Regions from separate parts of the Homo sapiens genome. Here region 2 is linked to region 1. Evidence: fine-mapped expression QTL. Tissue or cell type: subcutaneous fat. Region 1 holds a variant in brackets; the other region holds the start of a gene. All regions are shown on one strand. Distances are between the middles of the regions.

Region 1 (2,500 bases):
GACTGTTATCTCTCATGTTAACAGCCTAGAATGAATCTTTCCATATTTTTTCATGTTCATATTTTGGTCATACACAAGCATATATAATATATGCTCATTATATATTACTACATTATAAAACTGAGATGATTTTATAAACATATTTCTGTGTCTTGTTCTCTTCACTTAATAATTCTTGAAAGTCCCTCCATAAAAATGACCTAGCTACAACTCCTTCTTTTTAATGGCTGAAAAATATTTCATAGTATATAGATGCCACAATTTCTTCAACTATTTCTTTGTTGTTTGATATTCATTTGGTGTTAATGTTTTGTCACATGTTGCTTTAAAACATTTTTATTTAAAAATATAAAACTTTAGTTACAGTTGTAGCCTGCACATATCCCTCACTAATCACATCCCTCTACGATTTCCAGAAGGAAACGCTGGCCGGGCACGGTGGCTTAATGCCTGTAATCCCAGCACTTTGGGAGGCCGAGGCAGGAGGACTGCCTGAGCTCAGGAGTTTAAGACCAGCCTGGGCAACATGGCTCTCTCTACAAAAAATACAAAAATTAGCCAGGCACGGTAGCACATGCCTGTAGTCCCAGCTACTTGGAAGGCTGAGGTGGGAGGATCACTTGAGCCCAGGGAGTCAAGGCTGCAATGAGCTGTGATCACACCACTGCACTCCAGCCTGAGCAAGAGTGAAACATCGTCTCAAATTAAAAAAAAAAATTAATAAAAGAAGCAAACATTATCTTGAATGTGATGTATATTACCATGCATGTTTTCATGTTTTATAAAAAACTGTATCATTTCATGCTTTTCATTTTGTATGAGTGGTACTTTATCATAACCATACAAATTGATTTTATCCTCAATGTTACACTATTTCTAAGATTTATACATGAAGATACATGTGCTTTTTACATTTTAACAGCAGCTAAGTATTTTATTATTTCTTATATTTTCTAATAAATTTAAGATCTGCTTTCTGAATTTATTCACCAGAATTTATCTTTGTGGATAGTGTGAAGTTATAAATACAATTTCATTTTCCATATAATTAATGATCAAAGCAGCAATTAGCATTCCATACGTCCCTGATGATTTATAATGTTACTTTCACTGCATATTGCATTTCTATATATGTTTTTGGATTCTCCATGCTGTTCCACTGGTCTTTTTGTCTATCTCTGTATCACGACCACAGTCTCTTAATTTCTAGGGCTTGGCATCTATATCTAAAGTGGCAAGGTCCCTACCTTGCTCTTCAAGATTGTCTTGGCTACTCCTGGCCCTTTGATTTTCTTTGTGAATTTTAGGTTCACTTACCTTCGGTCTTCACAAGAAACTTACTGGGATTACTTTATTTATTTATTTATTTATTTATTTATTTATTTATTT[T/ATTTATTTT]TAGACAGAGTTTCACTCCGTCGCCTAGGCTGGACCAGGGCTCATTGCAGCATCATCGACCTCCCAGGCTGAAGCAATCCTCCTTCATCAGCCCCAAGTAGCTAGGACTACAGATAGGCATTACCACGCCCAGCTAATTTTTTTGTATTTTTAGTAGATACAGGGTTTCGCCATGTTGCCCAGGCTGGTGTCAAACTCCTGGACTCAAGCGATCTGCCCACCTCGGCCTCCCAAAGTGCTGGGATTATGGGCGTGAGCCATTGCGCCCAGCCCTTATTGGTATTTTAATTTGATATGTAATGAATTAATTTAGAGAGAAATAACATCTTAAATAGAGGTATCACATTATCAAAGCTGGTATATTCTTCTATTCATGTCTATTATATCCAACAGTAATGTTCTGTAATTTCCTCCATGAAGGTTTTATACAGCTTTGGTTGTGCTCACTCTTAGATACGTACACATACCTCTCTCTGGTCTTTATCTGAAACAGGAACAGGTGTTGGGTGGGGCCCGGCCCAGCATCAGGGGACTCTACTGCACATTAAAGTTAAAGAACCACTGACCTATACAAATAAAAGACTGCTGCTATAATGAAAATTAGTAGATGATAGGAAAGAGTATTCCCAAAGCAAAGAGTATTTCCTTTGGAAGCTTATCTTATGTATATTGATGTAGGTATATCTAATGATCTAAGAACATCAAAAGTTATCTGTAAAGTAAAGCTATACTATAAACAACTGAGTTAAGATACTTTAGAAAGTTTCTCAATATTTTTTTCTTTGGCTCCCTATGCAGAACACTTTCTTGGTCTCTACATAAAACTGAAAAAAGACTTGAAACCATCCCCAGCACCAAAATAAAGCAAGCTTTTTTCTATTTTTATGATTTTCCTTCCTGAGCAAGGAGATCGTATGAGTTGATTTAAAAGTTCAATTACAATGCCTTGTAATAAATAAACAATAGTGAAACTTTATTACCTATTTTGCTTTACAATTAGGTTAAAATTCAGAAAGAAGGATTTATGACAGAAAATCTATAGTTTATATATTTTTTTTCTTCACAAAAACAGTTAAACAAATTCTCATGGGCATATGCCACACAACAATCA
Region 2 (3,038 bases), 100 kb after region 1:
GATAAAGGGGAATAAAGCCCCTGGCCAAACAGAAGAAAGAAGGCCTATAAACCACATGAAGTGCTGTTCCTGTTACCCGGGGGAATTACTTTAATGACCGTTTCTAATCATCTGCTCCTGTCCTTTCTGTTCCCCAGCTGACCTCATGTGTACCAGGAAGTTACTCTGTAAATACAGTGACATTTCTGTTGAAACTTTTTCTTAAAAAAAAAAAAAAAGACAAAACACATTGGTGTGTGATATTTCAAATAGCTTTGTAGTAGATAATCAAATGTGAAATCTAATCAGAAGAAAAAATTAGATGGTCTCTACTTTGCCTAGGAGCCCTAACAAAGACAAACACAAGACAAAGCCTAAAGGGATAGAGTTTTGTCTGCAAGGAGGAAAAGACTTCATGGTGCTGGAGGTCAGGAAAACCTGGGGGGAAGAGAGATTTTTTTCAGCACCTACCAGCTAAAGTAATTAGGGAAAGGGATCCTGAATTAGACTGCCTCTTTTTCAGTGCCTAGTCATGTTCCCCTCCAAAAGGCCAGAGACAAGGAGTTAGGAGGCTTCTAGTTGACCTGATTCACTGTCCACAGGTTGACTTCTCACTGCCAGTTGTCTTTACTTTTGATATGTGAATTGGCAAAACTTAGACTAGGGATTCCTCCCCCTCCCCCACCATGCCATACCCCTCAACATTTTATAATGACTAATTCAAGCACACGGAAAGGTTGACAGAATTGTACAGTAAGCACCCATTTACCTATCACCTAGATCCTATCATTAACACTGCTATCTCTGCTTTATCACATATGGAGCCATCCATCTATCCATCCTATATTTTGACGCATTTTAAAGTTACAGATATCACTATTCTTCATGCCTACATTCTTCAGCTTGCCTATTAACTGTAGTTCACTTTTTTGGTAAAATTTACATAATGAAATGCAGATCTTAAGGATAACATCCTACAGGTTTTGATAATGGCATATACCTTTCTATAACCCAATCTCTTATCACCCTAGAAAACTCCCTCTTACCCCTTTCCAGTCAGTCCTCAACCCCAACCCCCAGAGGTAACCACTATTTTTTTTTTCTCATTATAGATTAGTTTTTCCTGTTTCTGAACTTCATATGAATAGAATCATATAGGATGCACTCTTTTGATCTGGCTTATTGCAGCATGATTTGAGTTTCACCCAAGTTGTTCCATGTATCAGTGGTTTGTTCCTTTTTATTACTACGTAGTGTTAAAAGATAAGTCAAGTCCTATTAAATGTTTTAAAGGGTTTGAGCAAACAGCAATTCACAAATTGGGCAGCTCCAAACCAAGAGTGGTTCAGGGCTCTACCAAGAGAATGCAAGGAAAAGGCTTTTGTAACTTGGAAGCAAGGCAAAGAAAATAATGGCTTGGTTATGACTGTGTAGTTGCCTTATTTGGTCTCCCCCCCGCCAAGTCCCTTGTTATATAAGTCAGTTGGTGGCTACTGATTGAACTTAAACTTCATTTTGCTTTAATGCAGGTATTTACAAAAAAAAAAAATAGTCCAAGTTAAGTTTAGCTTATCAAGGTCAAGTTTGTGTCCAAGGCTTAACTGGCTTTGTCTGCTGAAGAGATTTACAGTCCTGGTCCCCATTTTCTCTTATTCTAACGGTAATATTCCATTGTACAGATGTGCCAGTTTATCCATTCTTCTCTTGATTTTAAGGTGGGACTCAAGACTGGCCTTGAAGAGGCTAGAAAAGCAATGACTAAGGGTCAGGACAAGAACAAATACATATTCCAGGCAGAGGGAAAGCCATGAAGAAACTTCATCTCCAGATTCTAAAACCCAGGACAAGCCCTTAGCAAGGGTGGGTGAGTTGTTATTAGGCCTATATTAGTCCGTTTTCACACTGCTATGAACAACTGCCTGAGACTTGGTAACTTATAAAGAAAATAGTGTTTTTTTTGTTTTTGTTTGTTTTTTTGTTTGTTTGTTTTGAGTTGGAGTGTTGCTCTGTCACCCAGCCTGGAGCGCAGTGGCGCGATCTCAGCTCACTGCAAGCTCTGCCTCCCAGGTTCACGCCATTCTCCTGCCTCAGCCTCCCAAGTAGCTGGGACTACAGGTGCCCGCCACCATGCCAGGCTAATTTTTTTTGTATTTTTAGTAGAGACGGGGTTTCACCATGTTAGCCAGGATGGTCTCGATTTCCTGACCTCATGATCCACCTGCCTCGGCCTCCCAAAGTGCTGGGATTACAGGCGTGAGCCACCGTGCCCGGCCAGAAAAGAGGTTTAACTGACTTACAGTTCTGCATGGTTTGGAAGGCTTCAGGAAACTTATAATCATGGCAGAAGAGGAAGCAGGCATGTCTTACATGGCACAGGCAAGAGAGAAGAGAGCAAAAGGGGAAGAGCCCCTTATAAAACCACCAGATCTTGTGAGAACTTGCTCCCTATCATGAGAACAGCATGGAGGAAACCACCTCCACAATCCAATCACCTCCCACCAGGTCCCTCCCTCGACAGGTGGGGATTACAATTCAAATTACAATTTGAGATGAGATTTGGGTGGAGACATAGCCAAACCTTATCCAGGCCCCACCTCCACCAAGTACTCCACCTTTGCTGTGCCTTTCAATCTGTTCTCTTTCATAACCGCATCTAGTTCATGTCTTTTTGTCTCTTACTTAGACGGCTGGAGAAAACTAAACTGATAGTTTCTCAATCTCTGATCTCCGTCTCCAACAGTCTCTCATAAACATGGCCACAAAGACAATCTTTATTTATTTATTTTTTTTTTTTGAAATGGAGTCTCACTCTGTCGCCTAGGCTGGAGTGCAATGGCGTGATCTTGGCTCACTGCAACCTCCACCTCCTGGGTTCAAGCAATTCTCCTGCCTCAGCCTTCCGAGTAGCTGGGATTACAGGTGCCTGCCACCATGCCTGGGTAATTTTTTGCATTTTTAGTAGAGATGGGGTTTCATGATGTTGGCCAGACTGGTCTCGAACACTTGACCTCAAGTGATCCACCTGCGTCGGGCTCCCAAAGTGCTGGGATTATAGGCGT

Direction of the effects. Positions count from the first base shown, and alleles are read on the strand shown. Sizes are in standard deviations (SD) of each study's normalised expression.
For the expression in subcutaneous fat of the gene that starts at base 1,723 in region 2, T is the high allele of the variant in region 1 and ATTTATTTT is the other (moderate effect, 0.66 SD a copy in FUSION).

What was found. PIP is the estimated chance that this variant, and not a neighbour inherited with it, causes the effect.
Region 2: LINC01337 starts here. The variant in region 1 is fine-mapped to the expression of LINC01337 in subcutaneous fat (FUSION, PIP 0.92).

Annotation. Positions count from the first base shown.
Region 1 is chr5:80,721,984-80,724,483 of GRCh38, reverse strand. The region is part of intron 8 of MSH3 (mutS homolog 3); the gene reads right to left. Among named protein-coding and RNA genes, the nearest start is that of DHFR, 68 kb to the right of the region's middle. The variant T/ATTTATTTT (reference allele first, on the strand shown) is at 1,390.
Region 2 is chr5:80,621,209-80,624,246 of GRCh38, reverse strand. LINC01337 (long intergenic non-protein coding RNA 1337) reads left to right here and starts at 1,723. Exons shown (of 2, transcript NR_125754.1): 1 at 1,723-1,839.